Linked DNA regions of Homo sapiens. The protein of the gene in region 4 interacts with the protein of the main gene of each other region in a biochemical or structural test. Each region holds a gene or a part of one and is shown on either strand. Other genes may lie near its edges. The genes, in order: PEX5, PEX6, PEX1 and PEX26.

Region 1 (5,305 bases), on a different chromosome or scaffold from region 4:
CTGCCTTAAAAAAAAAAAAACAAAAAAAAAAAAATTTTTTTTCCAAGTCTAATGTGCCCACAAACATCTATCTCCAAGTATAAATATTTGTGTATATTTTTAAATTTTTCCTCAGGATAAATACCCATCTTGATATGGCACTTGATACAGTTCCCGATAAAGGCAGGCAGAGCCAGATGAAAAGCTTTAGAAACCCTAAGCACTGAAAAACTATCAAAATCCTTCCATGTAATTCATAATACAAAACAACCTAACAATTATATGGCACTGCACACTTTCCTTTGTAGTAGTAACAGGAGTAAAAATTCATGATTATCGACATCTCTTTCTCCTGCTAGCCCAGAGGCCCAGAGAACAGGGACCCTGTCTCCTGTGCTCTATCATTTTTAGAGGGATGAGCAGGTAACCAATATACCAGTGAGAATTTGAAAGGCAGAAACTGTTGAATCCCAGTCCTCCAAACGCCAACTCACCTTCTGCCATCCCAGCTTCATGACCAGCAGAACTCATACCCACATCAGTTCCATTTATTCTTCGTACAAATATTTTACAGTTTTATTTTTAAATCATTTACACATATTCATACAAAGAAAAATAAATTTCAGGATGGAATCCTGGGACCATGGTAGTTTAAAAAAAAAATCTCTCTGATCATTAGCTACTAAAGACAAGGCAAGAGGCTTAGCAGTCATTTCTGGGGGTTAGTGTATCTCCCCATGCAGGGGACAACTGAGAAGAATCCAAGCTGCTCCCTCATCTTCCTTCGATCTAGATGGGGGAAGGGGATTTTCCAATGCTCTCCCCTAGAAACATTTCAAGAAGTACAGCAAAGGCTTATGGTAACACTGAACCTATTTGCTAGAAATCTGGCAAGATTGCACTTTCTGAACCAATTTTCTATAACAGTTGGCTCAATTCCCATTCACAGGTGCTTCTAAGAGGATGAGGGATTGCCGCACTCACCATACCCCCTTCCCACTTGCTCTGTCCTCCCACCAACGTTCCTGAATAGAGCCCTTGATCTCTTCTGATCTAGTCCCTCCCCGCTCCCACCCAGCCTCATTTCACAAGCAAACCTTCCTCCTATGCCACACACCCAGACACTCTGTAGCAATTGGCCCTGGCAGCTCCTGAGGACCGCTGCAGTGATGACACAGGACTATTGCATCAGCATCGTGCTCACAGGGAATCAGAGCTCAGCCAGGAGAGGTCCAAGAATGACAGAACCATGAGCACTCCTACCAAAACTCAGCTCTGCTCAGCCAAATCAACAATTCAACCCAACAGGCCAACTCCTAACACATCCCATCCAGACAGACATTAGAGGCGCACAGCAGATGAACCTCCTACTTACACTGCCCAAGGAAGCTGGACTATCAATTCCCAGTAAAAGTGGGGGAAAGGACAGACATTACAGATGTGGTAGACCCTATCAGAAATGGCAGCTGATGATAACAGTTACCCTAAATCGTGGGGTCCTACCCAAAAAGCAGCACCAAGAAAGGGCATGATGAGCAGAGAGATCTGTAGCTGGATGTACAGCCCTTGAATTACCAAGGGACTCAGAGATGACACAGCTCATTTTCCTACAATTATGTAGGAACTAGAACACAGACTACCCACCCCTACGTTGAGGCAGCTCCTGAAAGGCCGTACCGCTTATGGTCATCAGCCCGCCCCCTTGGTAGGCCCATTTGGGGAGAGGGAATCACATCCAAAGCGGGGATCCCTCCAGGTGGACACTCACAGGGCAGCCCGTCCCACTGTCACTGGGGCAGGCCAAACATAGTTAGGAGGGTGGACAGATCCCGCGCGTCGGCTGCCCCATAGGCATCGCTCTGGCCTAACATAGACAATGCCAAACGCAGGGTGCTCCAGATGTTCTCCGACATGGCACCTCCTTCACCCCGGGGGCCCCGGCTTTTCCTCTGCATGTTCAGGGCCTCCAGAAAGTGCTCCACAGCCTCCCTGTAAGGAAGAAGAGGAATGAGAGCTGTTAAGCTGAACAACAATGGAAGGAAGCAGGTCAGCTAGCAGTGGGAGGGAGAAAGCTAGGGCTGGTTAGTCAAACAGGATCTAAGAATAAGGAGCTAGGGCCAAAGGCAGGGAGAAAAAGCTCATTCATTCATTTCTCAATAGATACTCTCACCGGTGAGCCCCGAGGTTGATGCAGCTGATGCCCAGGTTATAGCGGGACCGGATATAGCCAGGCTGGAGCTCGAGGGCCCGGCGGTACGCAGCTACTGCTTCTTCACTCTGGTTTCCATTGGCCAGGGTGGCGCCTAGCTTATTCCACAGCAAATAGTCCTGGGATAGGGATGCAGAACGGATGGGAACAGCTTGACTCAGCTCAAACTCTGCACATTACTCCACCGACTCAGCTCAAACTCTGCACATTACTCCAGCTGTTTCACTACTCTGTTAGCTAACATGTTTCGTCCCATTCCATTCTCAACAGTTCGGTGTGTGGCTACAATGTAGCCCCTCTCACCCTATGCAGACTCTCTTATGTCCAGATGACCCTACACTCCCAGCCTTCTTTTCCCAGTCCTCCCAAGGCAGTCAGTACATGGAACACTGGAATGAAATACCCCAAGACTCCAAAAGTCTGAACAAATTATTCTTTTTTGTGGGGGTGGGCAGGGTCTTGCTATGTTGCCCAGGCTGGATTTGAACTCCCAGGCTCAAGTGATCCTCCCACTTCAGCCTCCCAAGTAGCTGGGACTACAGGCATGCACCATCAAACCCAGCTTCCCAACAAATGGCTCTTCAATAAGGTACACAGTCATGTCCCATTTCCATTCCTCCCCTGGGCTCACATTGGGACGAACGCTGAGGGCAGCTGTGAAGCAGTCCACGGCCTTGTCATACTCCCCACTCAGGTTGAAAAGGACTCCCAAGCCACACTGCACATCAGGGTCAATGGAGGTAGGGTCCAGCCGCACAGCTGCCAGGAAGAGCTCTTTCACTTCAAGAAACAGGGAGCTGGATGAAAAGGAAAAAAACACAAAGTAGGTAGATGAATGTCTCTATTCCCATCCCCCCAAATTAATTTCTTCATTGATCAACCATATCCCCAACATTCATCAATCTATCAGTCATCTCTTCTACTCTCAAAGTCCAATATAGAAGCCTGTTTTTCTATTTCATCCTAGCACTGAACTGTAGAATGCAGACCTCCTTCAACTTGATCCTAGGTTTCCCATCCCATTCTCAGGACCCTTCAGTCTCAATCCATCCAAACTTCCAAAACCAAGGTCACCCTCCTACTGGGACTTAGGTTACTGTAATTCCTCATCCTAGGAACCCCTCATACTCACTCAGACAAGAGAGATCCCAGGATACGCTTGCTGGGGCCCAGTCCTGCCCCACCAGCCCCTTCTTCAGCAGGTGTCACCAGATGGGCATAGGCTGGTGTGTACCGCAGCCAGTCTCGTAGGGTTTCACAGGCCTGTCGCTGCAGGGACTCGTTGGTGAAGCTCACAGCCAGCGCCATCAGTGCTGTCTGGTTATCTGGCTTTAGCTCCAGACACCTGTTTGATCAGGGATGGGCAGACTTGATATCTGCAATGACTGACACTGGCACATGTGAGCACCCTGGGATCCAAGCCAAGCTTTGAAATGCAGAGTCACAATGGCCTCACCTGTGACTCCTCTGACATGAGTTAATAATAAAGTTACAGATCTAAGGGGAAGGTTTTAGCAGGCAAGGAGCCAACCAAAGCCGCAAATAAAATCAAAAGCCGATGAAGGAATGGAATTCACTCCAACCCTCAGAGTTTCAGCATGAGAAAACACTCTTGATAGCACTCAGAAAGAAGACAAGGATCCAGGTCTGGGCTTCTGTCATTCAAAAGGTTATATGCAGAGCCTTGGAAGCACCTCACCCACACCTTTCAGTGTACTCACCTCCGCAATGCACTGATGGCTAATAGTTCTTGTTCATTCTCTGCCTGGGTGGTACCCAGATACTGCCAAGCCTAGAGGGAAGTTGACAGATTCCATCACCCCATATTCACCTCTCCATTCGCCCTTCCCCCTGGCTTCTCCCACTCACCATCTCGCTCTCAAGCCCCTATCCTAGGCCATCACCCAGGCCCTAACCCATCTGCACTACTCTCCTTGGGGCCTTTCTCAAGATGGAGGAAGCAGTCTCTAGCCAGAAATGAGACTATGGAGTCACTCACTTCCATGTGCTTAGGATCCTGCTGCACAGCTGCCTCAAAAAGCAGCACAGCATTTGGCAGGTCCCCCTCCTGAAGGCGCCGCAGCCCTTCTTCAAAAGGCTGAGGGTGATCACGCAAGGGGTTCTCCTCCTCAAACTGGTACCCCTACAAGAAAAGCACGTGAGAGATGGACTGAGAGGTGGCACCGTCAGAACAGCAGGGATGTGAGGATGACAACCAGCAGGCAGAGAAGCTGAGGGCCTCCAAACAGGTTCCGGAATTAATTGCTGGCAAATTCTCCATATTATAAAGATCATGTATGACACAAGTAAAATCATTTGGTATCAGGTTTGTGCTCCCATCTCCTGTTCATGATACCTGGGAAGCTAGGAAAGTCTACAAATTCATCTGCGCTGGAAATAAGCTTATTTTAGGAAGTCATCACAGGCTTGTATTCCCACACCTTGACTTCTCACCACGGGGCAGAATGTCTCAACAGGATCTGCTTATAGTAATGAGACAAAGTGTCCCTAGCTATGCAAAGTGCATTTCTTGTTATCCTTCAATAATGTGATGATGTATAAAGGAAATGTTGTTTGGAGTCCTGCTATTCAAATATAACTCTTACTTAGCTCAGAGTCATTCCACATGTCAACTAGATAAAACATTTTCAAGCATTTTGAAAATGTTAATTTATTCCCCGATTTCATTCTTAATAATCATGAATATTAATCTGTATCTGACAGTAAGCAAAAGCTGGATCCCAAAATCCAGATGGCAGAGAATACTTCAGAAAGACACCATTCTCTTCCAGCTGAGGATTTCTCACTTTAGAGAAGAGTTACGATACTATCTGCAAAGCTTTGTCAACTGGCATTTTACACTAGGCAGAGAAGAAATGAGGTAAAGGGGAAGTCACTAGTAAGCTGCAAAATCTGGGACATGCAAATAAAAAGTCCGTTTTTGGAGAGTAGTTACCATCATAAAATAATACACCAGAACGAAAACAAGATGCAAAACAACAGGTGGAGGTCTTTCTAAATGCAGTTAAGAATAAATTCAGATAAAACTGTACAAAATAAAGACATGAGGCCCTTTTTCATTATTATTGTGAAAATGATAAAGAATCAAAAACACTT
Region 2 (5,848 bases), on a different chromosome or scaffold from region 4:
AGTGCTGATAGTGAACAACAAGGCCCACATGGTGACCCTGGACTATACGGTGCAGGTGCCGGGGGCTGGCCAGGATGGCTCTCCTGGCTTGAGGTACCACTTGGCTTAGTGGGGGTGAGGCGGTAGTTGGGGGAGCTGAGGTCACCAGTCCTCATGGTTGCTGGGGCCTCTGTTACAGTAAGTTCCGGCTCTCCTACTACCCACACTGTCTGGCATCCTTCACGGAGCTGCTCCAAGCAGCCTTCGGAGGTAAGTGCCAGCACAGCGTCCTGGGCGACTTCAAGCCTTACAAGCCAGGCCAAACCTACATTCCCTGCTACTTCATCCACGTGCTCAAGAGGACAGACTGAGTGTGGCCTCAGCTCCCACAAGCCTCTGCCCAGGCACTGCTAGGCTCTGTCTGGAAGATGGGGACCAGCAGCCCCACACCAGGGCCAGCCTCTAGAGCAGACTACAGCTGGGGTGCAGGGATGTGGGTTCCACAGACGGAAGGGTAAACAATATAGTCTTTTTCAGTTCCTGCATGCATTGTGTTTATTTATGTCAGAAGGATCAGGCTCCCATGCTGCCCACCCCCCCACCCTCTCCCAGGGCTTACTCCTCCCACAACCCTGCTCTTTCTCACTCCAACCTTTCATGCCACAACACCAGTAGGGGGCGGGACATGCTTTATTTTCAGCCACAGAACTAGCCCTCTCAGGGCCCAATCCCCAGAACCCAAGGCCCTGGCCCTCTTCCTGAGTAGATGGGCCTTTCTCTTAGAGCCGGCCTGGAAGGAGGGGCAAGTAGGCAGGAGATATCTCTTGAGCTGTTGCTGCTGTCTCAATGCCACTTTGCACCCTGGGATCTCCTGGAGGGAGGTGGCCTCCAGGTGGGTTGGCAGCAGCCTGAGGAGGAGCCCTTCCTTCCCAGATCTCTCTGTGGGCTATCAAGGTACCTGCAGCCATGCTGAGCGGGGTCCCAGACCCTGGGGGGCTCCTAGCAGGCAGCAAACTTGCGCTGGATGCGCTTGTACCGGAGCAGCTCCTGCTCACTGACTGAGGGTTGCAGCCGGGCGGCAGCCTGCAGCAAGTCCTCCATGGTGAGCATCAGTGCTGAGCTACCTGGCTCCAGCCCTGGAGATGACAAGGTGGGGAGGCTGTGGTCTATGCCCAGGCAGGGGAGAGCCCTGCGAAGGTGGCTTCCTGCTCAGGGTCTCCTAGATGTCAATGATCTTCCCTCTGGAATCCAGGACTAGGTTTGTCTCCCACTAGTTTTTTTTTTCCCTTAAACATTTTTTTTAGAGTTGGGGTCTCTCTGTGTTGCCCAGGCTGGCCTCAAACTCCTGGGCTCAAGCGATCCTCCCACCTCAGCCTCTCAAGTAGCTGGGACTCAGGTGCACCCAGCTCCCCACTAGCTTTTTGGTTGACCTCTCAGACCGGCAAGTGGCTCACCTTCCTCCAGGTCATGAACCCTGCGTTTGAGGGCAGCTGTCATAGCATCAGAGCAGAGAGAGTAGAGGTCCGCGCCCGTCAGCTGGGGAGGGCAGCAATCTAGCACGTTTACCAGGCTCACAGATGGCTCTAGCTTGAATCTGTTGTGGGATACAGGAAGAAACAGAGTTGGCATCACCTCCTCCCTCGAAAGCCAGTGCTGACCAGCTCATCCTGCATGTTGCATGCATCCCCTAAGCATCCCAAGGCCCAAGCCCTTCGCAGTCTTCCTCTAACAGAGCATACTTGCGTGTGATGGCACTTAGAACGCGTAGCTGGGAGGCCCGGTCCTCATTTGCCCCCACAAACACCAGCTTGTCAAATCTTTAGGGAGATAGGCAGGTATAAGTTTCAGGGAGCCCAGCCATGAGGGGTGAAGGAGGCACAAAATGAGGGTGGAGATGAGCAGTACAAGGGGCCCACCTGCCAGGCCGCAGAAGGGCAGGGTCCAGGAGATCTGGTCTGTTGGTGGCTCCAATCACAAACACATCCTGAGTGCTGTGCAGCCCATCTAGCTCGGCAAGGAGCTGAGACACCACCCTGGAGAGAAGGGAGCAAGGGCAAGAGTCCTTGGTGTCCCCCTTAGACTCTGCCCCTGCCTGTGGTACCTCTCTTTACAGGCAGTCTCAACAGGGCCCTCCACTCAGCTGTGCCCAATGTGCCCCACCAGGTAGGCCCCCATTCTCCTCAGTGGACCCTGCCCAATTTCATGGCCCCTTTCAGCTTCCATTATATTATCTCAGAACTGAAACAGCAGGAACTTCTATCTCTGGACTCTGAAGACTGCTGTGAGCTTTCTCATATCCTTCCCACCCTGGACCCCTCAGCTTTCATTCCCACTCAGACCCCTACCTGTCCATCACTCCTCCAGAATCTCCACTTCGCCCCCGGCTTGGGGCCAAAGAGTCCAGTTCATCAAAGAAGATAATGCATGGAGCTGCAGCCCTGGCCCTGGCAAACACTGAAGAGAGAGAGGGGCCCACAGGAGGGCAAAGCTCGGCTTGTGGGGGGTTGAAGTTAGGTGAGAGCAGGGAGGGAAACTGGGGCCTGACAATACAGCACTGGCATCCCAGGTACTAGACCCAGCTGGGCAGGAACCTGACTTGTAGAAAGGAGGATTAGGAATGATCATGAGTAGCCTGGGAGTAGGGGGTGGCTTGGGGGCCATCGGGGTTTGGGAAGCATGGGACGCCCTGCCCCTCCCTGCTCACTCACCTTCCCGCACATTCTCCTCACTTTGGCCCACATACATGTTAATGAGCTCTGGCCCCTTCACGCTGAGTGAGAGGATGTGAGAAGGTGAGAGCCGTCAGATGCACATACACACAATTGACCTCTTGGGCAGCCCCTCCTGCTCCCCAGCCTGCTGCAGCCCCTGATCCACCCACCATCCCTTCCAGGCCCCCTGGCCACCTGAGGAAGGTAAGGCTGCACTCAGTGGCTACTGCCTTGGCCAGAAGGGTCTTGCCGGTGCCAGGGGGCCCATGGAGCAGAAGGCCTGAGCGTCTCAGGCCCAGGCTCAGTAGCTCAGGGTGCTCCAGGGGGAGCTGAATGGTCTCCAGGATCTCCTTCTTCACCTCCTGCAGCCCACCCACATCATGCCAGGACACTGAGGGGATCTAGGAGATGGAAAGTGCGTGGTTGGGATATGCTCTTGGAGGGGCTCCTGTCCCACCTCCAAGGACTTGGTCTCCACCTTGGGGGCTCCAACGGCCTGGGAGTGAGCTGTCTGCAGTTGCTCCAGTGCCTGCCCAAAGTCCTCAGCCAGGAGAGGAAAGCCGGCAGCACACAGCTCCCCCTCATCCTCCTCAGTCAAGCCACCTGCCAAACTGCAAAGAGGAACACAGGGAAGCCTCCTCACCATCAGCGTCCCATTCCCTTCTCCCTTCCTCACCACCCACCCATCTACATCCATTTCCTCTTTCCGCCTTTCCGGTGCCCACGTCCTCTTACCCTGAGTTCTTGATCCTGGTGCAGGCTGCCCGGCTGCTGTGGGTCAGAAGGGCATAGAGATCCCCTACCACAAAGCCCTAGGGAACCACAGGAAAGGACACATGAGCAGGGCACAGTAGGCAGGAACCTTCAGGGACCGTCCCCCAGCTAGAGCAGAGGCCCTCTGTTGATGCCTTAGGTTTGTTGTTTTTTTTTTTTTTTTTTTTTTGAGACGGAGTTTTGCTCTTGTTGCTCAGGCTGGAGTGCAATGGCGCGATCTCGGCTCACCGCAACTTCCACCCGGGTTCAAGCGATTATCTCACCTCAGCCTCCCAAGTAGCTGGGATTACAGGCATGTGCCACCACACCTGGCTAACTTTGTATTTTTAGTAGAGACGGGGTTTCTCCATGTTGGCCAGGCTGGTCTCAAACTCCCAACCTCAGGTGATCCGCCCACCTCGGCCTCCCAAAGTGCTAGGATTACAGGCGTGAGCCACGGCGCCCGCGCTGGGTTTTCTACTCTCACTCACAAGGCAACAGGACTGAGTTCTTGTAACAAAAGCCAGGGACCTCCTAGGGAGGGCCAGTACTCTCCCTTGATACTCACTGCACACCGCCGTGCTAGCTGTGCCAAGTTCACCTCCTGGCCCAGGGGAAGGTGGGCAGTGAGGGCCCGCAGGATGCTGAGCCGCTGCCCCTCTGACAGAGCAGGCACCTCGAGCTCATGAGGAAATGCTGTCTGCACATCAGCAGGCAGGTCCTGGGCCCGGCTTGTGGTGGCCACAACCATGAGGGGAGGGCAGCTGCAGACAGAGGAGTGGGCACTGAGGGTGAGAACATGGCTGGCAGCTCCTGTGGACTGCCTTGTCCCAAAGTCGGCACAGAAGGGCAGGGAAGTGAGGTGGGTGCTAGGATGGGGTAGGGAGATGAGCATCTACCCCAGTTCCTAGATGGGGGAACTGTGTTTCCCCCATCACATTGAGGGCAGAGGCTTTTTCTTTAACCGAGTGTTCCCCAAGAAATGCTAGACCACAGACTCCTCCCTCTGGATCCCTCTAAAGACACGGAGCTCAGGGCTGTCTAGAGGGCAGCCAAATGGATGGGAGATGACTGAGAAGCCACTGAGGGGTGAGAGAAGGGAGGACTGAAAGGCTGAAAAGTAGGAGGGCTGGCCCCCCCGCTCCCCCTTTTTTTTTTTTTTTTAAGACTGAGTCTTGCTCTTGTCGCCCAGGCTGGAGTGCAATGGTATGATTTTGGCTCACTGCAACCTCCGCCTCCTGGGCTCAAGTGATTCTCCTGCCTCAGCCTCCCAAGTAGCCTGGATTACAGGCACCCGCCACCACACCCAGCTAATTTTTGTATTTTTAGTAGAGACAGGGTTTCACCATGTTGGCCAGGCTGGTCTTGAACTCCTGATCAAGGCAGGTGATCCACCTGCCTCGGCCTCCCAATGTGCTGGGATTATAAGTGTGAGCCACCGCGCCCAGCCGGCCCCCCCAGCTTTGAGAGGCCCAGCTCTGTATAAGTACCTGTTGAGGGGGTCCTCATTGAGGAGGAGGTGACGCAGCACAGCCATCACACGGGCATCCTCACCCAGCCCATCACGGTCCCGGCCCAGAAGGTCCACAGCTGTGAGCAACAGGACTGCAGGCCGGCAACGGCGGGCCCGGGAGAAGATGGCCTGCAGTTTTGTCTCCACAGCCCCACTACTTTCTGCACAGAGGCTGGAGCAGGGCACCTGGGGAGGGGATCCCAATGGGTCTGTGAGCAAGGGGAAAGCATGACAAGGGCAGGAGAATCAGGGGAGGAGGAGGTGGAAGATGTGGGCCATCTTTTTCTCTGGAGGGCAGGGACAGGGAAGGTACCCTGGCCAAGTCCTACCTCTTTTTTACCCTATCCCATTCCCTGGACTGTCCACCAATATCTTGCAACTCCCTCCTCCTTGAAAGTACCTCTCCATAGCTCAGCATCATGGGAATATGCCTGACCCACTGGGCTGAAGTGCTAGGGCCTGTGAGTAGACAGAGGAGGGAGGGGAGAGGAAGCAGCAGAGAGGGAGAACATGAGCTGGGGAGGGGAAGTAGCTGGGGTTCTACTCTCCAGAGACCCTCACCTTCAGTAAGTGGAGCCCAAGGTGACTACAGGCAGCAGCAACTACTGTGGTCTTCCCACAGCCTGGGGGGCCCCGTAGAAGGACACTGCTAGTTCCTGTCAGCAGGGCACCCCTGCAACCAGAGAACAGACATTCGTCTCCTTCATTTTGCCCAAACATTAGAGTCCCCAGTAACACAAGATCCCTTAGATCTAGAAAGCAGATACCCTGTTTTTCTCTCCTTGAGCCTCCCTGACCCCAGGACAGGGCTGTCCCCATGTAGTGAGGCTGTGTCTCCCACACCACCTGCGGTGCTCTGGCCGGGGCATCCAGCATATCCAACAGCCAAAGA
Region 3 (7,031 bases), on a different chromosome or scaffold from region 4:
GTTCACAGGTATGACAGGTTGCAAGAACAATTAAAAATGTACAACTATTTAAATAGAAAAAAAAGTCAAAATAACAAATGTACTCACCATCTTTAGTTTCCAGCTTAATAAATTCTTCCTCTGATATTACCAAAGGAAGCATGGTGGTAGTAGACTGCTGTAGCCATGAATAAAATACAGTTTTTATGTCTTCTTCACTTATGTCTTTAGGCTGCCAGAAAAAGGAATAGTAATGAATTATCCTCATATCTGAACTTAACTTTAACACCCTTATTTTAACATCTGATCTTCCTAATAAAGTGTAAGCCTGACCAAACAAATCCAATGAAGGATGTTCATGTTCTATAGGCACAGGTCTGGGATTTGACATTACAGTTAGCACAATGAGTGCAGTGTAGCCTGAAGAAACATCTGTTAGGCGGAAAAGTTTTAAATGCTCCTTTTCTCTATGCCCAGTGATACATCTACCATAATGTGGCTCACTCAATAACCATTCCAACCCCATTCTCCCTTTCCTCCCTCTACGATAAAGACAGGAAAACAAATTCCTTTTTCTTTGAGACAGAATCTCGCTGTATCGCCCAGGCTGGAGTGCAGTGGCGCAGTCTCCACTCACTGCAACCTCTGCCTCCCGGGTTCAAGCGATTCGCTTGCCTCAGGCTCCCAAGTAGCTGGGATTATAGACATTGCAGCTAATTTTTGTATTTTTGGTAGACATGGGGTTTCACCATGTTGGCCAGGCTGGTCTCAAACTCCTGGCCTCAGGTGATCCGCCTGCCTTGGCCTTCCAAAGTGCTGGGATTACTGGCATGAGCCACCACGTCTGGCCTAATAATCTATTTAAAAAAATTTTTTTTGAGATATTGCCTAGGCTGGAGTGCAGTGGCACAATCATAGCTCACTGCAGTGTGGAACTCCTGGGCTCAAGAGATCCTCCCACTTCAGTCAGCCTCCTGAGTAGCTAGGACTACAGGCATGTGCCACCACATGTGTCTAATTTTTATTTTTACTTTTTTTGAAATAGAGTCTCGCTCTGTTACCCAGGCTGGAGTGCAGTGGTGAGATCTAGGCTCACTGCAACTTCCACCTCCTCAGTTCAAGTGGTTCTCCTGCCTCAGCCTCCTGAGTAGCTGAGATTACAGGATTAGCACCACGCCCCGATAATTTTGGTATTTTTAGTAGAGATGGGGTTTCACCATGTTGGCCAGGCTGGTCTCCAACTCCTGACCTCAAGTGATCCACCCATCTCAGCCTCCCGAAGTGTTGGGATAACAGGCGTGAGCTACCACGCCTGGCTTAATTTTTTTTTTAATTTTTTTGTAGAGATGGGGTCTTGCTATGTTGCCCAGGCTATTCTCAAACTCTTGGCCTCAAGCAATCCTCCCACCTCAGCTTCCCAAAGTGCTAGGATTACAGGTGTGAGCCACTGGACCCCACCTGCAAAGATCTTTAAGTTCAATATCTCATTTCCTGACTCTACCAGTATCCAAAGAATTAACTGAGTAAAAAGTAAAACAGTCTAGCACTCTTTTAGGCTACAATATTAATACTGAAACAACATGGGACAATTTTTTTTAATTACAACCACGTGGCAAAATGATCAATCTCTTAAAAGCCAAAAATATTCATATTTGCATTGGCAAATATAAGTATTTGTGTTATCATTTATTAAAGATTTCTCAGCTTCTCAAAAAGTTAAACATAATTCCTAGGTATATCCCAAAGGAGCTGAAAAGAGGAACTCAAACAGATACTTGTACACCAATGTTCACTGTAGCATTATTCACAGCAGCCAAAAATGTGGAAACAACCCAAGTGTCCATCAACAGATGAATGGATAAACAAATGTGGTATATGCAGTCAATGGAATAGTATTCAGCCATGAAAAGGAATAACATTCTGATACATACAACACAGATGAGCCTTGAAAACATTATGTTAAATGAAATAAGTCAGATACATAAGACAAATGCATACTTCTACTTATATATGAAATATCTAGAATAAGTAAATTCATAGAGACACAATATACATTAGAGATTACCAGGGACTGGGGAAAGGAGTGGACGGGGAATTATTGTTTAATGGGTACCAAGTTTCTCTTTGGGGTGATGGAAAAGTTCTGGATATAGATAGTGGTGATGGTTGTACAATATTATGAATGTAATTAATGCCTTTGAATTATACACTTAAAAATGGCGAACATGGCATATTTTATGTTATATATAGTTTAACACAATAAAAAAAGATTTGTATCAAAAAGGAATACAACATTCTTATTACTTAGCTAAAGCAACTAGAAATCTTACAAAACGTGTAAAAGAATTTTGATGTAACATATATATTTGAACTCACTAAATTCTCTCTAGGTTGTAACTTTAGAGATCTTGGAATTTTAGGGGTAACTTCCACTGGAGTTATCCTGACTACGGCATGCATTTCTATATTTAGTCTCTTCCTCAGGTCATCTGGAATCTGAAATTTAAAAATAAACAAAAATATAAATATATTCAAAGCTTGGTTAAGAAATATTTCATAGCATAAATATTGATATATTAGCTTCTATGAATTTAGGTGAAATAACAGAAGCTATCATAATAACTCATAGTTGTCTCAGTCCATGCAGGCTGCTATATCAAAATATCCTAAACTGGGTGGCTAACAAACGACAGAAACTTATTTCTCACAGTTCTCTTTTATAAGAGCACGAATCCCATTCATGAAGGCTTCACCTTCATGACCTAATCACTTCCCAAAGACCACACCTCCTAATACGATCACCTTGGGAGTTGGGATTTCGACATATGAATTTGAGGAGGACAAAACATTCAAATACCAACGGTGTGACCAGATGGATGTTCAGATATTGTTATACCATGAACATTTCAATCCTCTCCCTACATTTCTTTCCTTTTCTTTACATAATCTTCAGAATTAGAGCTTTAAATGTATGTATTTGACTGTATTCACCAAACCCATCTTTTAAACTATGGCACATTTACATTCAAATTAAATGTTATTTCTAATCTTTGAGCAGCCTTTATTTGTGAAAGTTAACAACCAATGAAGAAGCTGGAATGGCCAAAACTAATCACAGACAATCTGCCTGATTGTCTGATTAAATGATTAGATCCAGACAGAAACTTAATCTAAAAAGCAGAGTAAAATTTCTCCCACCCCCTAATGAAAATGTTCTAAACTTAGATTGTGGTGATGGCTGTACAACTAGTATAAATATACTAAAAATGACTGAATTGTACACTTTAAATTTTACCTCAGCCGGGCGCAGTGGCTCACGCCTGTAATCCCAGCACTTTGGGAGGCCGAGGTGGGCGGATCACAAGGTCAGGAGTTTGAGACCAGCGTGGCCAATATGGTGAAACCTCGTCTCTACTAAAACTACAAAAATTAGCCAGGCGTGGTGGTGGGAGCCTGTATCCTAGCTACTCGGGAGGCTGAGGCAAGAGAATCGCTTGAACCTGGGAGGCAGAGCTTGCATTGAGTGGAGATCGCCACCACACTCCGGCCTGGGCGACAGAGTGAGACTCCGTCTCAAGAAAAAAAAAAAAATTATCTATATATATATATATATATATATATATATATATATATATATATATATATATATATCAATAATGATGTTAAAAATTTTTCTCAACTTCCCAAATATAAGTAAGCACTGAAAGACATAAAGACGACTTTACTCTCTATTAACTTCTAAAGAGCAGGTGCAGACATATTAATGGTAGACAAAAGCATAAATAAAAACTCTAAGGTACATATTCTGACTTAAAGAGAATTTAACAATCAAGTTTCCTGTTTGTTTGTTGTTTTTTTTTAATCACCATGCTTCACAGGGTAATAAAGGTTCAAGTTAACATGAATTTGTTAGTTGTATCACCAAGTGATCAATTTTGATCTCTCAAGCCAAGTCCATTTTAGTACCTGATTTCACCTACTGTGACTTCTCATTGTCCATGGCTCTTCAACCTTCAGTGGAGTGGGAAGGGCGGAGTCCTTATTGCTATCTTAATCACAGGACTTTACCATCAGCACTTCTCCCTGTTCTCACCATATAATTTCAAGGAAATAAAAGGATATTCCCATCTAATGACAGAACCAGCTAAATCATAAGCTCAGTGTTAGATATTTTGAATTTGAGGATGCAGTGGGATCTCCTGAACGGACAGTTTAAAGCTAACAGAAAATAATGATCTGAGGCCAGGCACAGTGGCTCACGCCTGTAATCCCAGCACCTTGGGAGACTGAGGCAGGCGGATCACTTGAGACCAGGAGTTCAAGACTAGCCTGGCCAACATGGTGAAACCTCGTCCCTACTAAAAATACAAAAATTAGCCAGGAGTGGTGGCGCACACTTGTAGTCCCAGCTACTCTGAAGGCTGAGGCAGGAGAATCATTTGAACCTGGGAGGTGGAGGTTGTAGTGAGTGGAGGTGGTGCCACTGCACTCCAGCCTGGGCAACAAAGCAAGCTTCTAACTCAAAAAAAGAAAAGAAAAGAGAAGAGAAGAGAAGAGAAGAGAAGAGAAGAGAAGAGAAGAGAAAAAAGAAAAGAAAAGAAAAGAAAAGAAAAGAAAAGAAAAGAAAAGAAAAGAAAAGAATGGTCTGGAGCTTTAGAAAATGATGTAGGCCGGCCAGGAGCAGTGGCTCATGCCTGTAATCCCAGCACTTTGGGAGGCCGAGGCAGGCAGATCACCTGAGGTCAGGAGTTCCAGACCAGGCTGGCTAACATGGTGAAACCCAGTTTCTACTAAAAATACAAAAAATTAGCCAGGCGTGGTGGTGCATGCCTGTAGTCCCAGCTACTCAGGAGGCTGAGGCAGGAGAACCACTTGAACGTGGGAGGCGGAGGTTGCAGTGAGCCAGATCATGCCACTGCACTCCAGCTTGGGCAAGAAGAGTGAAACTCCATCTTGTGGAAAAAAAAAATAGAAAAGAAAATGATGTAGGCCAAAGAGATTAATGCTTTGTCAGTTATTTGTATAAAGGTCACAGGTAAAACTGTTGGAGAAAAAAAAAAAATCTACAAAAGGAGACAACCTTCTCTTTCTATTTTATTCTCTTTCCTAACAAGTTCCTCTCTTTATCACTATGAAGTCTTACTTTACAGTGGTTCAAATTTAGGTTCCAATAAATGGACTAGTGACTTATGTCATATAAAGGTAGCATTAATATTTGTGGCCAGGATGAGGGGCTGGAGCACTAGTTGCCCTGTCTACTTCCTCTCCGTTATACACAAATTAAAGAGCAGACACCGGCAGGGTAAGCAGCTCCTGGATGCATTCCAATCCAGGTGCCACCACATGCAGCAGGAAGGTTACCTCATGCCATGGATCTCTCCCTACACTGGCCCTTTTCCCTAATATTAACAAGTTGCTTTCGGTAACTGGGGAACAAATCTGCAAGCATTAAAGATGGGAGGCTTTGTAGGGCACTCCATCCTGATGAACCCCCAAGTCAATCTGCCTGGGTTTGAATCCTAGTTGTAACACTAGCTATGCAATCTCAGGCAAGTAATTTTGACCTCTCTGGCCTGAACCTATCTAAGCTTGTACCTATTCAAGCTTACTTGGCCAGAAAACATACAATCTTTATCCAAACAAGGACTTTACTGCAAAGCGTAAATGTGTCCCCCAAGTGCCTTTAGGCACTGTGTTTCTTTTTAATTGATTTTCAATTTATATATGAAATACTATTCTAATTCATAATTTGGGGATGTTTAAGCCACATAAAATTTCTCCCAAGTTATAAAATTTATACTAACCCAGACTTTCCCAAGATGGAGAACTTCTACATTTTTGGTATATTTGATGGCATTGTTCAATTCTTCAAGTCCATTCCAGACTACTTGTAGCACACAGGCCTTCTCATCTTCTTCATTATGATCTGACCTAATTTTTTTTTGATCTAGTGGCTCTGACATCTGCTTCTCTTTTTCAGGTGATAACACATTTTGTTTTGTTTTACTTTGCTGTTGCTTTGGAGAAAGTAGCTTAACTAGCTTTCCATATGTCACAGTAAAGCTGGGCTCTACATCAAAATATTCCTGGTCCCATGGAAATACATGAATGGCACAGTGTTTATGAAAAACAGAGGTTGCTGACGCGTTATATATACTAGGAGGTTGAGATTTGCATACTCTGAAAATATTGTCTAGAGGAACAACCTTTGACTGCATATTTTTGAATGCATTGATTTCAGTTAAACCCCAAGATGTCTCTTGTTTCTTCTCAGATTGAAAGGAAAAAATGCTTCCTATCATAGTCCATAAACTTGCTACTGATGATGAGTCAACTGGAATCTCTGACTCGTTTTCATTAGATTCAGTGATTCCCACAGTATTTGACTGAAGTTGCTTGGTTTGAAGTTCTTTCATCATTCCTTTCTGGTCTCTTCCATAACTATGAAGTTTTTTATATTCAGCATCAGCTTTTGAAAATGTATTCTCTTTGGCTCGGCGTGTCTTTGGCTGAATAAGGAGTTTGGTGTCAGTTTCCAGCCTTCCATAAGAGGCAGCTGGTATTAGTGCAACTGTGTAGAAAATAAAGCTCATTAGTGCACATTCATTTCTACTTTGGACTCAATGCTATAGTGTAGAATATGACAGCAAATATTACAATAGCACCTACCAATTTGGATAAATATGTACGTTTGTTGATCAACCCAAACAGGAAAAATGGCTTTTGGAAAAACTATTCGAATTTGATCTAGAAGATGTTGTTCAAGGGAAACAGCATGCAGCTCCTAGAACCAACAGACGAAAAGATCAATTCACTTTACATTTTGTCCACTCCATATCTAGTTAAAAAAAATCTCAATTCTTTTTTTAAAAAACAAATTTTAATGTGCATATTTAATATACACGACATGGTGTTATGAGCTACATATAGATAGTATAATGGTTACTATAGTGAAGTAAATTAACATATACATCATCTCACAGTTACCCACTTTTGTGTTTTTGTGGTAAGAGTAGTTAAAATCTACTCATTTAACATGAATCCCCAATACA
Region 4 (7,677 bases):
TTAAAAAAAAAAAAAAGTTGATATCATAGAAGCAGACGGTAGAACGGTGGTTACCAGAGACTGGGAAAGGAAGGAAGAAAAGGAAGACGGGAAGAGGTTCGTCAATGGGTACAAAGTTACGGTGGGATAGGAGGAATAAGTTGTGGTGTTCTATTGCACGGTAGGGTGGTTATGGTTAACAGTAAGGTATTGTATATATAAAATAGCCGGAAGAGAGGCTTTTGAATGTTCCTGTCACAAACAAATGATAAATGCATGAGGTGATGGATATGCTAACTACCCTGATTTGATCATTATACAACATATACACAGCATATATTGAAATGTCTAATTTACCCCATAAATATGTACAAGTGTCAATTTTAAAAACTTTGTTATTTTTTGGCCAGGGGCGATGGCTCACATCTGTAATCCCAGCACTTTGGGATGCCGAGGCAGGTGGATCACGAGGTCAGGAGATTGAGACCATCCTGGCTAACACGGTAAAACCCTGTCTCTACTTAAAACACAAAAAAATTAGCCGGGCGTGGTGGCAGGCGCCTGTAGTCCCAGCTACTCGGGAGGCTGAGGCAGGAGAATGGTGTGAACCCGGGAGGTGGAGCTTGCAGTGAGCAGAGACTGTGCCACTGCACTCCAACCTGGGCGACAGGGCGAGACTCCGTCTCAAAAAACAAAACAAAACAAAACAAAACAAAATTTTTTTTTAAGAATTAGGAATTCCTAGGACGTAGCAAGCTGCTCTTTCAGCTCTGTCCACTCTGTCATCCCACGTCGCTCCTATTCCCTGTTTCCTCCCTTCTTTATATCTATTCTACTCCTAAATTCCTCCCCCTTATTCTTTATTGCTATGTATGGAAGTCTGGGGAAAAAAAAGTGAAGGGAAAGAATCCGATCTGGAGGGCAATAGTAGGGAAGGGGAAAAGAGTAGGTATTTAGGAGAGGAGATGAAAATCCTCTCGTTTCTGAACCGATCTGATGAGTCAGCAAAGAAGACTTACCACAGCTCCAGGACTTTGGGGGGTAGCTTTTCAGGGACCTGGTAATACTGAAGGACCCAGGAGAGGACTTCTTGCCACCGATCCATTTCTGCCAGGGCCTGGATCCCCACAACACACAGGGAGCACTTCACCTCCAATGAGCTGTCAGCAGAAAAACCAATTTCAGTTAGAAGTGGTTCCCCTCCATTTCCATTCCCACCTCCACCTTGGGACTGTTCCTCTCCAGCTCCCAACTCAGCAGCCATCATCTCTCTCATCCCTGTTAGTATTTAGATGGGCTTCACAATTGGTCTCATGGGCTGCCCTTTCCCCCAGGAACTAAAAGTTCCTGTAACCCTCTTTCAAGAGGCAAGTCAGCTGTTGCTCAACGTTCATCTTTGTATCCAGGTGAAATCAGATTTAAATGAAGAGGAAGGGTAATCCTGAGGGGGAAATAACACACAGCACCGGTGTGTGGCTGAAAAGAGAGCTGGAACTAAGAGTTTGCTCTGTGAACAAATGGGCTTGGAGCAAGGTTTCTGGCTGAGTGGAGGTATAGACTCCATAGCTGGCTAAAAGGCACCACCTAGTAAGGTTCCTCCAGACACCCAGAAGCAAAGCCTTCTGCATTCACTGAAATGAGCTCCCACCCAGTCCCCTAAAACACAGCCAGGGCTCTCCAGATCATCCTTCTTTGTGGTCAACTTTAGCTATTCTACCTACCACCTCCCTAGCGTGGCCTAACCCAAGTTTACAATGCAAAGAAATGACTCCCTCACCTGCCAGACGAGGCTGGTGGCATTAGAAAGAGCAATGCAAGCCCAAGGTTTTTTTCTCCGGATTCTTTTCTTTTTCTTCTTTTTGGTAGAGAAGAGGGCTCATTATGTTACCCAGGCTGGTCTCGAACTCCTGGGCTCAAGCAATCCTCCTGCCTCGGCCTCCCAAAGTGCTGGGATTACAGGCGTAAGCCCCAGCTCCCGGCCCTGAATTAATTCTTTAATCCAGTCCTCTAATTGGACCAGAACGCTGCTCCTGCCATGACCCCCATTCCCCATCATCAGCCAAGGTCAGGAATAAACAACCTTGGGCGGGGCGGGGAGGGCGGAGGTACCTGGGAGAGGACTTTTACCACCTGCTTACTGACAGAACTTAGCACTTAATACACATTCAGCCTTCCCATCATGTCATTGTACCTTGGAACAAGGAGCAAATAATTGGCTGTGGGATCCCCACTAAGTTTTTGTTACACGACTTCCCTTCTCTGTAGAATGGGCACACGATGAGCGACCACCCTCTCGGAGACAAACCACTGATGAAAGCGAGGTGTAAAGCTCCTTGTGGGCAATCTGGGAAGGACAGAACTCCTGAGACCTTGAGCCCCACCACAAGAGCGCCCGGAAATCGGTTCATTTCCGAGCCCAGCACGTACGTGCCCGCGGGTTCCTCTGCCACGGCGTGGTTGGCCAGACTCTGCCAGGCCCGCTCGCAGGTCTCCAGCGCCGCCCGGAAGTCCAGGTGCACCACCAGGAGGTCGGCCGCCTCCTCCAGAAGGTCCACGGCCGGCGCCCGGGCCGGGACCGCGCGCACCGGCTCGCTGCTGCGCAGGGGTCCCCCGAGCCCCCTGAGGGGGGCTGCAGAGGTCGAAGAATCGCTCTTCATAACGAGTCCGGGTCCAAGGCCCAGGTCCTCAGACGTCGGAGTGACCGCCTCCCCAGAGGCTCCGGGATATCCCGAGTTGGCCTGGGCGAAGAGGGAGAGTCCTCATCTCTTTGCCCACACCCCTTCCCGAGGTCGATTCCCCGAGAAGGAAAAGGAAGGGGCCTATCTGAGGCAAAAGCTGGGCTCGCCTGGAGGCTGGGGAAGCAGTTTACACGTCAGATTTGCAGGATTCTTGCATCCCTGGAATACCTGGCCCTAGCTTCTCCGGCCCCGCGACACGTGCAGGAACTGCCTCAGCTCCGGGCTCCTGGTTACGATCAAAGACTCACCTCGCCTCCCGGCAGCGGGCGCGGACATCTTTGCGCTCGCCCAGCCCCGCAGCCGCGCGGCGTCCCGGCGGCGCGGAGTACTCTAGGAGTTGTAGTTCCTCAGCTCTCGGCCCATCGCCTTCTGTAATGGAAGTAGGAGGCAGAGCGCGGACTACAACCCCCAGCACGCCGCGCCCCGGAAGCCGCCCCTGTGCCGTGAGAAAACAAACTGGTGCTACAGCTTCGGGGTGCGGAAGTCAAAACGAAGCAAAACCGAAGCTGTCTTGTGAAATGGAGGGGTCCTCACTAACCAGTTCCAGCGGAGGCTAACGGAAGAAGTGCCAGCAATGGATGTGCAGCTACATGCACGCTTTTAATTCAGAGCTTCTGCGACGGTGGCGATCAGGGGATCTGTAATGTAATGTAATGTCAAGGCTGACGCAGAGCTGATCAAACATTTTGGCAACCTTAGTCTTGAATTGATTCACACTTTCTCCGCGTTGCCTCCGGAGTTTGCTGTAGGGTAATGAATATTGCCTGGTGAGGATGAGGGACTTAGGGTGGAAACCTTCACAAGGACCACTGAGAATATGTTGGTCCCAAGGGCAATGTTCCAAAATGAATAGTGACCCCACCGAGGCGGGGTTGGGGGCGCTGAGCATAAGGGCCTCATTTTTCTCACTGCTCTCTGCCCCATCCTGAATTTGCTGTTAAAAAACAACGTTAAATGCAGATACCAATTCCACTTCCCCACTGTTGTCACTTCCGATCTGTCTTTATATTTCTCCTTATCATTTATCACCATCTACATACCAATGTCTATATTTTACTTATTTTTATTGTCTATTTCCTTCCACTATGATATAAACTCACAAAGGCAGACGTTTTTGTCTCTTTTGTTCACTGTGGGAACCTCAATGCCTTGAACAGTGCCTGTCATCTATAGGTAGTCAAAAAGTATTTGTGGAATAAATGAAGTCCTGGTTTCACTTTTATCTGGTTACAGGGTCCAGACTTCTCTTTCCTCGGAGTCTGGTGGACTTGGTTCTGCCTCAGCTTCCCATGCAGACTTTTCTGCAAGAGAACGGAAATCCCAGAAGATGGATGTGTGCATGTCTGGTGACAAGGGCAGGGGATGTATGATGTGAGCAGGTGCCTGTTTAATCTAATTTCTAGGAGAGCAAAGATTCTAGGGAAGCTTTGGAGTGAATTCAAAGGGTAGAGAACTGGGGAGAAACTAAAGCCAAGAGGATCTAGTACAAATGTGGGAAGCTTGGCAAAGCCCGGGTGAAACAGAATATAATAATAAGTGTGATTTGTGGATCTGTTTAAAATTATTATTATAGTTACAATTTACCAAATACTCTGTTCCCAGTACTTTACTATAAAGTGCATTATGTACGGTATGGTTTTGTTTTTCACAATGTCCTTATTTTACATTGTGTAACTTGCTCATGGAATGACTGTGTATCCCCTGAATAGCAAACATACTTAGTTCTGTCCCTGCAGAGCAGAGTAGAGCTCAATACACATCTTTGAACCAAAAGAGCCTCGGTTTGACTGAGATTTTGTCGCTTACTAGTTGTGTGACCTCGGCAATTTATTTAAATAAGCTCTGATTTCCTCACCTGTAAAATTGGGATAACAGTTTGTCCTTAGCTCCCAATGGCTGAGGGAAGAATTAAGTAATATTGCGCATAAAGCGCCATGCGCATTAAGCACTGAAAATGTGAGCCAGGCCTGGGAAGACGAACATGCTCAGAAGCGGCCAGCTCTAAGCGGCTGCTGCCTGGAAAAGTCCCTTTCCTAACAAATTTCTTGCTATTCCAAATTTGTCCAGGAGATGGAGGCACAGTCTTAACAGAAGCAGCCTTGCTAAAAGTAAATTTGCCTATTTAGTAGTGAGACAGCCAGAATGAGGTCAAGATATTTAAGGCAGGAGAGAGGAGAGCTAGAAACCATATAAAAATATGATTGTATTCCATTTCTGATTCACCCAATTTTCAACTATTCCCGGGCTTCATATCAGTCCGTATGTAACCACTGTTTAGCACTATTATGCCCACAAATGGATTCCTCAACACACATCCAGTGGGACACATCATCTCCTCTATGTCTACAAGTACTTAGACTTTCTCAAGCGAAGACACAGAAATCCTAAACAGAAGCGAATTCATTCCCTCTGGGGGAACATAAATGCGTATTGTCTTTACTTAGCCAAACTTCTGTCTCTAAGTTGGAGCTCATGGGACAGCCTTTGAAATCATCTCTTCTGTCATTTCCTCATCTTTGAGACAAAAAACACAGTGGAAATAAGGACAGTCCTTTCAGATGTATAAGGCCAGGCCCATATTAATATTTGTATTGTTTGAATAGTTTTATTTTGGGAAAACTGGCAGAGCACCTGAGATGCCAGTATCCTCGTTACAACCCCTTCCCTAGCCCTACCTAGGCTCTGGAACTTGGGGTTGTTCCTTCCATTTGGCAGAGGGCTCAGTGTGGCTCCTTGCCTGAGGAGGCAGATTTGCTCAGCCTGCTGTAGCAGGGGATGAGTTGTTGTTTTTGTAGCAGAAAGCACACTGGACTGGAGATGAGAGGCATGGCTAGAATCCTGGTTCCTTCAGGTGGGGCACAGTGGTTCATGCCTGTAATCCCAGCACTTTGGGAGGCCAAGGCAGGAGGATTGCTTGAGCTCAGGCATTCAAGACCAGCCTGGGCAACATGGTGAAACCCTGTCTCTACAAAAATTAGCCAGGCGTGGTGGAGCACGCCTATAGTCTCAGCTGCGCAGAAGGCTGAGGTGAGAGGATGGGTTGAGCCCAGGAGGTCGAGGCTGCAGTAAGCTGAGATACACCACTACACTCCAGCCTGGGCGACAGAGTGAGACCTTGCCTCAAATAAAATAAATAAAAATTTTTAAAAAATAAAAAAGAATCCTGGTTCCTTCAGTGACAAAGCCAGGTGACCTCTAGAAAGTCACCATACTTCTTTGTGCCTCAGTTGTCTCATCTGAGGACACTAATACTAACACCTGCTGCATAGGGTGGCTGTGAAGAGCAGAAGAAACCATGTGACAGCCCATTGAACACTTGTCAATCACTGGACTCGTTCAGGCTGATGTAAGGCAAGAAAGAAGAAAGAATCTCAGCCCAGCGCGGTGGCTCATGCCTGTAATTCCAGCACTTTAGGGGGCCGAGGTGGGCAGATCACTTGAGGCCAGGAGTTCAAGACTAGCTTGGCCAACATGGTGAAAAACCATCTATACTAAAAGTACAAAAGTTAGGCAGGCATGGTGGTGTCCACCTGTAGTCCCAGCTGTTCAGGAGGCTGAGGCATGAGAATGTCTTGAATCTGGGAGGCCTCCGCAGTTGCAGTGAGCCAAGATTGGGCCACTGCACTCCACCCTGGGCAACAGACCAAGACTCTGCCTCAATTTAAAAAAAAGAAGAAGAAAGAATCTCATAGCACTCCGAAGTTCTGTAATATTACTTTCTGACCTAGAATCCAATTCTTTTTTTTTTTTTTTTTTTGAGACAGGGTCTCGCTTTGTCGCCTAGGCTGGAGTGCAGTGGTGCGATCTCGGCTCACTCACAGCCTCTGCCTCCCGGGCTCAAGTGATTCTCCTGCCTCAGCCACCCGAGTAGCTGGGATTACAGTTGCATGCCACCATGCCCAGCTCATTTTTGTATTCTTAGTAGAGACAGGATTTCTCCATGTTCTCCAGGCTGGTCTCAAACTCCTGACCTCAAGCCATCCACCTGCCTCAGCCTCCCAAAGTGCTGGGACTACAGGTGTGAGCCACCGTGCCCAGCCCTGGAATCCAATTATTGACTCTTCCATGCAAAAATCAAAAATGCCCACATCTGGCTGGGCACAGTGACTCATGCCTGTAATCCTAGCACTTTGGGAGGCCAAGGCAGGAGGATCACTTGAGCCTAGGACTTTGAGACCAGCCTGGGCAGCATAGCAAGACCCCATCTCTATTGAAAAATGTTTTCTAATTAGCTGGTCATGGTGGCACGTGCCTATAGTCCCAGCTACTTGAGAGGCTAAGGCAGGAGGATCGCTTGAGCCCAGGAGTTCAAGGCTGCAGTAAACTATGATGCGCCACTGCACTCAATCCTTCAAGCCTGGGTGACAGAGCAAGACCCTTTCTCAAAAAATAAAAATGAAAAGCCTACATCTGACGTCAACCTAGCCTGTCTTGCCTTCTCCACACTGGTTCCACATTTCAGGCCAATAAACAGCATCCACAGCTGTCCCTTCGAACATCCCAACCAGCCAGAGCCCCTCAGTACAGGGACATCTGTGGCAAAGCTCTGCATGCAATAGGTTCAGACCAAGTGTGGACCTTTGGCCAGAAGCGAGCCAAGGAGATAAGTATAGGTAGGGTGGAGATGATGTTTTTCCAGGATGGTCAAGGCACACCTCCCTTGCTCCAGAGGCTCATCAGTGGGATGGCATTTTTATGGCTCTTTTTTAAAGCCTGGACTAGGAGTTCAGGGCAGAACTCAATGCTTCCTATAGTGTTCCTCTCCTTGTAGACACAGCAGAACTCTGCTTCTGTATCTAAGAAGTGACCATCATAATCATCCTGTATAGTACTTTACAACAATAATAGTGATGGCTCAATTTATATGGTATGATATTAACTATGCACTAGGTGCTTTTCTGAGTGCTTTATTTATTTGTTTATTTATTTATTTATTTATTTAAGACAGGGTCTCTCTGTG

What was found.
Region 1: the proteins of PEX26 (region 4) and PEX5 form a complex in vitro, tested with the Homo sapiens proteins (one study listed by BioGRID).
Region 2: the proteins of PEX26 (region 4) and PEX6 form a complex in vitro, tested with the Homo sapiens proteins (one study listed by BioGRID).
Region 3: the proteins of PEX26 (region 4) and PEX1 form a complex in vitro, tested with the Homo sapiens proteins (one study listed by BioGRID).

What each region holds. Positions count from the first base shown.
Region 1 is NC_000012.12:7,206,685-7,211,989, reverse strand, and holds the end of PEX5 (peroxisomal biogenesis factor 5), read right to left. Parts: intron 4,332-5,305; coding exon 4,188-4,331; intron 3,981-4,187; coding exon 3,910-3,980; intron 3,534-3,909; coding exon 3,321-3,533; intron 2,986-3,320; coding exon 2,820-2,985; intron 2,308-2,819; coding exon 2,150-2,307; intron 1,969-2,149; coding exon 1,767-1,968; 3' UTR 531-1,766; downstream 1-530.
Region 2 is NC_000006.12:42,963,357-42,969,204, forward strand, and holds the end of PEX6 (peroxisome biogenesis factor 6), read right to left. Parts: intron 5,630-5,848; coding exon 5,518-5,629; intron 5,143-5,517; coding exon 4,934-5,142; intron 4,208-4,933; coding exon 4,012-4,207; intron 3,503-4,011; coding exon 3,426-3,502; intron 3,302-3,425; coding exon 3,169-3,301; exon of another isoform or gene 3,148-3,168; intron 3,092-3,147; coding exon 2,886-3,091; intron 2,750-2,885; coding exon 2,688-2,749; intron 2,434-2,687; coding exon 2,325-2,433; intron 2,013-2,324; coding exon 1,896-2,012; intron 1,797-1,895; coding exon 1,719-1,796; intron 1,574-1,718; coding exon 1,434-1,573; intron 1,116-1,433; coding exon 979-1,115; 3' UTR 509-978; downstream 1-508. Other genes in the region: CNPY3-GNMT (Glycine N-methyltransferase-like isoform 1 precursor), read left to right, coding at 1-93, 179-350; GNMT (glycine N-methyltransferase), read left to right, coding at 1-93, 179-350. UniProt on the Homo sapiens protein: Component of the PEX1-PEX6 AAA ATPase complex, a protein dislocase complex that mediates the ATP-dependent extraction of the PEX5 receptor from peroxisomal membranes, an essential step for PEX5 recycling.
Region 3 is NC_000007.14:92,511,493-92,518,523, forward strand, and holds part of PEX1 (peroxisomal ATPase PEX1), read right to left. Parts: intron 6,764-7,031; coding exon 6,649-6,763; intron 6,551-6,648; coding exon 5,784-6,550; intron 2,476-5,783; coding exon 2,356-2,475; intron 212-2,355; coding exon 88-211; intron 1-87. UniProt on the Homo sapiens protein: Component of the PEX1-PEX6 AAA ATPase complex, a protein dislocase complex that mediates the ATP-dependent extraction of the PEX5 receptor from peroxisomal membranes, an essential step for PEX5 recycling.
Region 4 is NC_000022.11:18,073,336-18,081,012, reverse strand, and holds the start of PEX26 (peroxisome assembly protein 26), read right to left. Parts: upstream 3,024-7,677; 5' UTR 2,637-3,023; coding exon 2,407-2,636; intron 1,140-2,406; coding exon 999-1,139; intron 1-998. UniProt on the Homo sapiens protein: Peroxisomal docking factor that anchors PEX1 and PEX6 to peroxisome membranes. PEX26 is therefore required for the formation of the PEX1-PEX6 AAA ATPase complex, a complex that mediates the extraction of the PEX5 receptor from peroxisomal membrane.